Regions from separate parts of the Homo sapiens genome. Here region 1 is reported to be linked to region 2. Evidence: microRNA targets listed by miRTarBase, many of them from high-throughput screens and not tested one by one. Region 2 holds a microRNA gene; the other region holds the end of a gene's coding sequence.

The links. The annotated mature microRNA hsa-miR-6778-3p reads UGCCUCCCUGACAUUCCACAG and lies in region 2 at 2,976-2,996, opposite strand. An mRNA with a match to its seed (bases 2 to 7 or 8) in the 3' UTR can be bound and repressed. Matches are read on the target gene's strand: a 7mer-m8 pairs with bases 2 to 8, a 7mer-A1 pairs with bases 2 to 7 and ends in A, and an 8mer does both.
Region 1: miRTarBase lists GEMIN8 as a target of hsa-miR-6778-3p. Seed matches in the 3' UTR shown: 7mer-m8 at 3,861-3,867, 7mer-A1 at 3,696-3,702, 7mer-m8 at 3,411-3,417 and 7mer-m8 at 3,277-3,283.

Annotation. Positions count from the first base shown.
Region 1 is chrX:14,004,370-14,009,369 of GRCh38, forward strand. GEMIN8 (gem nuclear organelle associated protein 8) reads right to left here. Exons shown (of 5, transcript NM_001042479.2): 5 at 2,357-4,800. The coding sequence ends at 4,544. Among named protein-coding and RNA genes, the nearest start is that of GEMIN8, 23 kb to the right of the region's middle.
Region 2 is chr17:18,337,839-18,343,013 of GRCh38, forward strand. MIR6778 (microRNA 6778) reads right to left here and starts at 3,048; the gene lies at 2,976-3,048. SHMT1 (serine hydroxymethyltransferase 1) reads right to left here. Exons shown (of 12, transcript NM_004169.5): 6 at 2,894-2,975; 7 at 2,205-2,417.

The DNA of each region.
Region 1 (5,000 bases), not on the chromosome of region 2:
TCTCTTGTGCACCTCCTTGTGCCCACATGGAAGAGTGTCTCTTGGGCATATACCTGAGAGTAGGATTGCTGGGTCATATGTGCCTGTTTTAACTTTGCAAGAAAAATGCCACCGTGCCCTTCAATAGGGTGGACCAACCTATACTCCCATAGCAATGTGAGTTCTCATCTCTCTACGTCCTTGCCACACTTGGCATTTTTATTCTTTTTCTTTTGTGAGACAGCATCTCGCTCTGTTGCCCAGGCTGACACGGCCTCAGCTCACTGAAACCTCTGCCTCCTGGGTTCAAGTGATTCTCCTGCTTCAGCCTCCCAAGTAGCTGGGACTACAGGTGCATGGCACCATGTCTGGCTAATTTTTTTCCTGTATTTTTAGTAGAGACGGGGTTTCACCATATTGGCCAGGCTGGTCTCGAACTCCTGGCCTCAAGCAATCCAACCGCCTTGGCCTCCCAAAGTGCTGGGATTACAGATATGAGCCACCGTGACTGGCCAGCATTTTTATTCTTTTTAGACATTTGCCTATCTGAAGGGTATGGAATATCACTCTTATTGTAATTAGTGGTTCTCTGGTTACCAGTGAGGTTGAACACCTTTTCTGCAATAGGCTTGTAAGTGGTCTGCCTGCCCCCCATTGTGTGATATTGTGAGATAATAAAAAATATATATATTTGGTCTCTGACATAGACCCCCTGAAACTCTTGTAGATAGAGGCACTAGGAAAGTCTTTTGTTGTAATACTTGGTCTTTGACCCTGGTTCCTGACACAGAGCTCCTAAATGCTTTGGAATTTCCTGGGTGATGGGAGTCTTTTGTTCTAATGAGGTGACTCTTGGTGGGCTCTTGGACAGCTTCGGGATGGGGCCAGCTGCCAGGGGAACCAACCACATGATTAGAAGGTTGGAATTTTCAGGCCCACCCCCTAACCTCCAGGGAAGGGAGATGGGCTGATGGTTGAGTTGGTCACTAATGGCCAATGATTTAATCAATCATGACTATGTAATGAAGCCTTCATAAAAACCCCAGAAGAACTGGGTTTGGAGAGCCTCTGGATTGCTGAACATGTGGAGGTTCCTGAAGGGCTGCGTGCTCAGAGAGACAAAGAAACTCTGCACCCCTTTCCACATACCTTGCCCAATGCATCTCTTCACTGTTCATCTGTATCTTTTGTACTATCCTTTAGTAAGCAGGTAAACTCAAGAAGTGTGAGCCTGAGTTCTGTGAGCCTTCCTAGGAAATTAATTGAACCCAAAGAGGAGGTCGTGGGAACCCTAATTGATAGCTGTTCAGTCAGAAGTATACGTGACAACCTACTACTTGTGATTGGCATCTGAAGTCGGGGGCAATCCTGTGGTACTGGGCCTTTAACTTGTGGGATCTGATGCTACCTCCAGATAGATAGTGTCAGAAATGAATTATAGGACACCCAGTTGGTGGCCCCTGGAGAAATTGCTTGATGTGTAGGGAAAAGCCCCCTGACATCTGGTGTCAGAAGTGCTCTCTGTTGTATTGAGTGCGAGTAGAGAAAAAAGAAGTTTGTTTTTTCCATCAGATATTGGTGCCTCCAACACATGTTCCCCTCGGTGGCAAAGGTGGCCTTGTTAAAAGGCCATGTGATCCTATCAGTGAAGACATCCACAGATTCTTCTGTGACTGGCCAAAGAGCTAGGGACACTTTTTTTTTTTTTTTCACTCTGTCATCCAGGCTGGAGTGCAATGGCGCAATCTCGGCTCACTGCAACCTCTGCCTCCTGGGTTCAAGCAATTCTCCTGCCTCAGCCTCCCGAGTAGCTGGGACTATAGGTGTGCACCACCACACCTGGCTTATTTTTGTATTTTTAGTAAAGACAGGGCTTCACCATGTTGGCCAGGCTGGTCTCGAACTCCTGACTTCAGGCGATCCGCCCACCTTGGCCTCCTAAAGTGCTGGGATTACAGGTGTGAGCCACCGCTCCCGGCCTGAGCTAGAGACATCTAATAAGCTCTGCATGCCCATCTACTCTCACATACACAGGGACACAGGGAGAATAGCCATCAGACTGTCACCAACAGACAGAAGCAAAAGTAGGATTTAGAAGAAAAAAAGGGAGAAAAAAAATCCTGAGGGAAGAGACTATGGTTTAACTAACTGTGATGGAAGAAATTCAAATATTTGTTGGATAAACAAACAAACGAGTCACGTGTGCCTTGTATCACAAATTATCTGAGACAAGCAGGAGGAAGGATGGGCTGGCATGAGGTGTCCAGAAGCCAGCGCATCCATTCGGAGAGCTGACAGGGAAACATTTCTCCGTATTTAGAAATTTTATACTCAAGACTCCCACTGGCACTTCCCAGTGATTTTTAAAGACAGGTAATAAACGTGTCAACATTTATTGAGTATTTACCGTGTAGCCAGCACTGTTTTACAGGCACTACTCAATGTGGTCCGCACAATGACCCCACGAGAGAATTATTAACACTCATTTTAAGGATAAGGAAGGAACCAGAAGCACTGAGAGGTGAAGCCTTAGGTAACAAAGCCAGTAGGGGTGAGACCGGCATGGTGATTTCTTTAGGGGAGGGTATAAGAGTCCTTTGCGAAGAGAAACATTTCACTTTCAAATGCCTCAGCACCTGCTGCAATTCCAGGCTTTGGTTTGTACTTGTATCTCAGTCACAGTTATTTTATAGTTAGGCATATGAATTTAAAATGAAAGGGAGAAATACTAAAGATTTGAAATTTTAGTTATGTGTCACCTCAAGGGAAAGTTAATTATCATTTTTGTCGGCAACACCTACACACAAATTGTGACTCCAGTAATAAAATGAGAGCTTAGAAAAATAAGCACCCAGGGCTGATGAAAATAATGCATTTGTCTCAGGGCAGGGGCTGAATGTGAAGCCAACTGTTCTTAGAGAGAAACATGTCAATACTAAATCTTTTCACCAGCCTTTGATGGATGTGCTAATCTTCTCAGGTCAACATGGGCTCACCCTGGCAATGTACTGTAATAACTTATTTAAAAGGCAGCTGGCTTTTATAAATGACCTGCTCCATCAGCTTTTAGATTTCATTTTCAGAAATGTATTCCTTTATCAAATCAATATTTGCTGTATATAGTAAGAAATCAACTGTGCGTTTTCTGCAACAGAGGTGACTGCAGCAGTGACCAGGTTTGGGAATTATTGTTCTTTTTTTTTTTTCTTTTGAGATGGAGTCTCACTCTGTTGCCCAGGCTGGAGCTCGGCTCACTGCAAGCTCCGCCTCCTGGGTTCACGCCATTCTCCTGCCTCAGCCTCCCAAGTAGCTGGGACTACAGGTGCCCGCCACCACGCCCGGCTAATTTTTTGTATTTTTAGTAGAGATGGGGTTTCACCGTGTTAGCCAGGATGGTCTCGATCTCCTGATCTCGTGATCTGCCCACCTCAGCCTCCCAAAGTGCTGGGATTACAGGCATGAGCCACCGCGCCGGGCCGGAATTATTGTTCTTTGCTCTCAATTCTGTATGACATCTAAGCTCTGTAGACATAATGAGATAACAAGAATAAAAATGTCAGGCAGGTGATTTTCATTCCATGAGAGGTGCAGTTGGCAAACTACCATCTGTAGACCAAATCTGGCCTGCAGTCTGTTTTTGTTTTTGTTTTGAGACGGAGTCTTGCTCTTTCTCTAGGTTGGAGTGCAGTGGCGCGATCTCAGCTCACTGCAACCTCTGCCTCCTGGGTTCAAGCAATTCCCCTGCCTCAGTCTCCCACGTAGCTGGGATTACAGGCACACACCACCATGCCCGGCTCATTTTTTGTATTTTAGTAGCGACGGGTTTCATCATGTTGGCCAGGATGGTCTCCATCTCCTGACCTCGTGATCTGCCCACCTCGGCCTCCCAAAGTGCTGGGATTACAGGCATGAACCATTGCGCCCGGCCGCCTGTTTTTATAAATAAAGTTTTATTAGAACACAGCCACACCCATTTGTTTACTTACTGTCTACAGCTGCTTTCACACTACAAAGGGAGGGTTGAGTAGTCACAACACTGACCGTGTGGCTTGCAGTGCCAAAGATATTCACTCTCTGGCCCTTTATAGAACATGCATCCCTCTCCACTACAGGTAGTGGTATTTGTCTCACTACACACTTGGCTCATTTTTAGTGGGGGCTAATGGAGCTAGAGTCAGAGAGGATATCTGGTTTTTTAAAGGCATTTGTGTAGTTCAGACAGGTTAAAGACAAGAAAAGATAAAAAAGCAAAACACCAGGCAGTATCTCTAGGCAAGAACGTTAATGAATTGAACTGTTACCAACAACATAAAAAACCAGTATAGTATATGCAAAATTATTTTATGTCAGGAGAAAATTTATCATGTTGGCAACAGAACATGTCCTGCAGACCTCCAAGTGGCTGGCATAGTACATCCACCCCGTGACAGGCCCACTGGGACTGTGGTGAACATGCCTGTACCCCAGTACAAAGTCCCCTTTCCCTAAGAAATGTACAGAAGGAGAGATAAAGAGCGTGTACCCAAAAGGAAGAAGGAGAGGCTGGGTACCCTGTGCCCTGAGCTCAGAACTTCAGGGGGATGACCGGCCAGTACTTGGGCTGCTTTCGGTCACAGTGCTTGTCAAAGCTCAGCTGCACCGCGGCCTCCATGGCTTGGATCTTGGCAGCACTGTCCCCGTACAAACGCTTCATCTCGGCCTGGCGCCGCTCACCAGGCCTCTCAGTTGGGGCTTCTACCGACCGGCGGGTGTTGCAGTACAGGTCGTGGTCAGCGTTCACATAGCTGTCCAGGCGCTCTGCATCCAGCTGCTGCTGCCGCCCTGAGAACAAACACGAACGTGAACATGAACATAAACACACGTGTGTGCACTGCAGAAGGAGCCCAGTGAGTGCTGCTGCTGCTGGCCATGCCATCTGCAGCCCCCTAAGGTCCCTCATCTTTCCCTTTCCAACTGTGAAACCAGGCCCAAGTGTTCCAGATGAGATGCTTACCAGATTTTGAGGCAAGACCTGCAGATTA
Region 2 (5,175 bases):
GCCGGGATTGCAGACGGAGTCTCGTTCACTCAGTGCTCAATGTTGCCCAGGCTGGAGTGCAGTGGTGTGATCTCGGCTCGCTACAACCTCCACCTCCCAGCCGCCTGCCTTGGCCTCCCAAAGTGCCGAGATTGCAGCCTCTGCCTGGCCGCCACCCCGTCTGGGAAGTGAGGAGCGTCTCTGCCTGGCCGCTCATCATCTGGGATGTGAGGAGCCCCTCTGCCTGGCTGCCCAGTCTGGGAAGTGAGGAGCGCCTCTTCCCGGCCGCCATCCCGTCTAGGAAGTGAGGAGCGTCTCTGCCCGGCCGCCCATCATCTGAGATGTGGGGAGCGCCTCTGCCCCGCCGCCCCGTCTGGGATGTGAGGAGCACCTCTGCCCGGCTGCAACCCCGTCTGGGAGGTGAGGAGGGTCTCTGCCCGGCTGCCCCATCTGAGAAGTGAGGAGCCCCTCCGCCTGGCAGTCGCCCCGTCTGGGAAGTGAGGAGCATCTCTGCCCGGCAGCTGCCCTGTCCGGCAGGTTGGGGGCAGCCCCCGCCCAGCCAGCCGCCCCGTCCGGGAGGGAGGTGGGGGGCAGCCCCCGCCTGGCCGTCACCCCTTCCAGGAGGTGGGGGGGCGCCTCTGCCCGGCCGCCCCTTCTGGGAAGTGAGGAGCCCCTCTGCCCGGCCGCCCCTTCTGGGAAGTGAGGAGCCCCTCTGCCCAGCCGCCACCCCGTCTGGGAGGTGTACCCAACAGCTCATTGAGAACAGGCCATGATGACGATGGCGGTTTTGTCGAATAGAAAAGGGGGAAATGTGGGGAAAAGATAGAGAAATCAGATTGTTGCTGTGTCTGTGTAGAAAGAAGTAGACATAGGAGATTCCATTTTGTTCTGTACTAAGAAAAATTCTTCTGTTAATCTATAACCTTACCCCCAACCCCGTGCTCTCTGAAACATGTGCTGTGTCCACTCAGGGTTAAATGGATTAAGGGTGGTGCAAGATGTGCTTTGTTAAACAGATGCTTGAAGGCGGCATGCTCATTAAGAGTCATCACCACTCCCTAATCTCAAGTACCCAGGGACACAAACACTGCGGAAAGCCGCAGGGTCCTCTGCCTAGGAAAACCAGAGACCCTTGTTCACTTGTTTATCTGCTGACCTTCCCTCCACTATTGTCCTATGACCCTGCCAAATCCCCCTCCACGAGAAACACCCAAGAATGATCAATAAATACTAAAAAAAAAAAAAAAAAAAAAAAAAAAAAAGAGTAATGTAGTCACCAGAGGGCTGGTGTCTCTGCTGATGCAAAGTTGGCGCATCAGGTCTCACCACAGGCTAAATGATGACCTGACCACTAACAGGCTTTCCCAGGTATGGGAATTCGAAAATAAGGGGAGTGCCTAGGGGTAGGTTATGAGGTAATGGAAAGAAAAACCTTCACTAAAATGATATTAATGTTTATACATCCATGTCTTCTAGTTTGACTACTATGAGTCTTTCTCTTTGAGAAACATGATGGATCACTGTAAGTTCACCAGAATAATGCAGCCTTGTGAGGCCTCCCAGTGGCCCCCAGCCAGCCATGCACCCTCCTTTCATTCAAACACCTGCCTCTCGAGTTCAGCAACCGGCGCCATCCTAACACATAGTGGTTGCTGATCCCCCTCCTATGTTCCTAGGACCTGGATGCACAAAAGTGAAGCAGGAGCTGTGGCTGACAGTCTCCTTCTGGGGATTCCTTTCTTTCTTTCTTTTTTTTTTTTTGAGACGGCATCTCGCTCTGTCGCCCAGGCTGGAGTACAGTGGCACAATCTCAGCTCACTGCAAGCTCCACCTCCCAGGCTCACGCCATTCTCCTGCCTTCGCCTCCTGAGTAGCTGGGACTACAGGTGCCCACCACCACACTCGGCTAATTTTTCGTGTTTTTAGTAGAGACGGGGTTTCACCGTGTTAGCCAGGATGGTCTTGATCTCCTGACCTCGTGATCTGCCCGCTTCGGCCTCCCAAAGTGCTGGGATTACAGGCGCGAGCCACCTCACCTGGCCGGGAATCCTTTCTGTAAAGCCTGTCACTGCTCCTTCCTAAGCAGCTCTTTAAGGGACTGGGATCTTAATATTTTCCAAGGATCCCAGGTCAGAGTTTTTCCCAGCTCCCTCAACTGAATCTGAACCCCCACAGGAGAAATGTAAACCATGGTACCCATCTGTACCCAACATTCGGGAGCTCACCTTTCCTGTAGAAGATCATGCCAGCTCGGCAGCCTCGCAGGGTCTTGTGAGTGGTGGTGGTCACCACATGGCAGTGTTCAAATGGGGAGGGCACCACGCCAGCCGCCACCAGCCCGCTGATGTGAGCCATGTCCGCCATGAGATACGCCCCGTTCTCATCTGCAATCTTCCGTAGCCGGGCATATTCCAGGTTTCGGGAGTAGCAGCTGGTTCCTGAGACAGGAAAGGTGACACAGCTGCATCAGAGATGTCCACCGGCCAGCTGAGTTGGCTTCACAGTGGCCTCTAGATGTGCAGATCTGAAAGCCCAGAGATTTCTTCCCTTAAAGTCTCAGAGCAAAAATGGAGAATGCCCTCAAAAAGCACCTCTGTGCTAAAGGCAACCACTCTAACTCTTCAACGTCTTGGTGGTTGAGATGGCCCCAACTACTATTGCCAGCGCAGTCAGGGCCTGACATTTCTAGATGCTTCTCTGAGAACAGTCTCACATCTTAATCTACATAGCACAAAAAGCAGCAAACACACATCTGTATCCTGAAAGAAACTAATATATGTAGACCCCAGAAACTCAGTTATCCAGGGCAGAAACTAGCAGTGGGCTCAACAGGGTGCGAACATCTTTCCATCCTCATTCTGTAAGAGGCACCAGGCTACTGGTGAACAAGGTGACTTTCCGCCCCGCGCATCACCTGCGATGATCAGCTTCGGGTGGAAGAGGCGTGCGTTCTCCTCCAGCTGGTCATAGTTGATGTAGCCAGTATCTGGGTTCACCTGTGGAATGTCAGGGAGGCAGGTTCAGGCTGCTTCCTCCAACCACACCTGCCTCCTGTCCTCCCACTTGAACTGGCTCCACCCACCATGACAAGAGGAATGATGTCCTAGATGAGGACTTGAGGGTGAGACAGGATGGATACTGGTGTGTTCAGCCTGCTCAACCAAGTATGGCTCACAGACCCAGGAGTCCCTGAGGAGTCCCAGGGTTGTAGTGAGCCCTGCTGCTGGGGCACTACCTGCTGAGAAGGAACCAAAAAGCACCTGCAGAATGAAACAAATGTGACGGGACCACACAATGGAAACCAAAATGGTTACCTTCAGGAACAAGACCAAAATGCCTGCTAATACTACTTCTATTCCAAGTATAATGAGGCAAGAAAAAGAAACAAAAGGCATAACGATTAGGAAAGAAGAAATTTAAAAACTGACATTACACACAGACAACACAATATACCTAGAAAATCAAGATGCTAGGGGCCAACTGTTAGAATAAGCAAATTTAGCAAGGTCACTGGATACAACATTGAAAAACAAGAAGTAGGGGCTGGGCGCGGTGGCTCACACCTGTAATCCCAGCACTTTGGGAGGCTGAGACGGGCAGATCATGAGGTCAGGAGATCGAGACCATCCTGGCTAACACGGTGAAACCCCGTCTCTACTAAAAATGCAAAAAATTAGCCAGATATGGTGGCGGGCGCCTGTAATCCCAGCTACTTGGGAGGCTGAGGCAGGAGAATGGCGTGAACCCGGGAGGTGGAGCTTGCAGTGAGCCGAGATTGTGCCACTGCACTCCAGCACTCCAGCCTGGGCAACAGAGCGAGACTCCATCTGAAAAAAAAAAAAAAAAAAAGCCAAAAAGTATATAAAAGCAAGAAAGATAGAAAATGAAATGTAAATAACAAAAACCATAAAAGGAAAATCATACCAAACCTTTACACAAAACATCATTGCGTTGTGTATTTTGTGTCACAAAATGCTTGACAAATTATAGTAATTAAGGCAGCACGCATTCATGGAAGGGCAGAGCATCTGGCTTAACCAGAAGCAGAACCACACACAACACAGGTCATTGGATCCATGCCAGTGGTGACGCTGCAGTGCAGTGGGGAGAGGATGACCTTTTCAATCAATGGCACTAGGTCAACTGGGCATCCATTTGGACAAAAATGTTATCTGGATGCCCGCCTCACCCACACAAATCAATTCCATATTCAGCAATCCCACTTGTGAATCTATATCTTAAGAACTTGAAATCAGTATGTCAAAGAGACATGTGCACTCCCATGTTCACTGCAGCACTATTCACAATAGCCAAGTTATGGAATAAAGCCATGTCCATCAACAGATGAATGGACAAAGGAAATGTGACACATATATATATAAACAATGTAATAATAATCAGTCTGAAAAAAGAAATTCTGTCATTTGCAACAACACCGATGAACTTGGAGGACCTTATGCTAAGTGAAATACGCCAGGCTCAGACAGACAAATACTGCATGATCTCACTTCTTTTTTGAGACAGAGTCTCACTCTGTCACCCAGGCTGGAGTGCGGTGGTGCCATCTCGGCTCATTGCAACCTCTACCTCCCAGGCTCAAGCGATTCTCCCACTCAGCCTGCTGAATAGCTGGGACCACAGGCAGTGCCACCACACCCGGCTAATTCTTATATTTTTGTAGAGATGGGGTTTCACCATGTTGCCCAGGCTGGTCTCGAACTCCTGGACTCAAGTGAGCCTCCTACCTCGACCTCCCAAAGTGCTGAGATTATAGGTGTGAGCCACCGCACCTGGCCATGTGATCTTACTTCTATGTGAAATCTAAAACAATCGAACTGCTGGGCGTGGTGGCTTATGCCTGCAGTTCCAGCACTTTGGGAGGCCGAGGCAGGTGGACCACCTGAGGACAGGAGTTTGAGACCAGCCTGGCCAACATGGTGAAACCCCGTCTCTACTAAACATTCACAAATTAGCCAGGCGTGGTGGCGTATGCCTGTAATCCCAGCTATTCGGGAGGCTGAGGCAGGAGAATCACTTGAACCCAGGAGGCGGAGGTTGCAGTGAGTCAAGATGGTGCCACTGCACTCCAGCCTGGGCGACAAAGTGAGACTCTGTCTCAAAAAAAAAAAATTAAAATTGAATAAATAAATAAATAAATAAAACAATCAAACTCACAGAAGCAGGGTAGAATGTGGT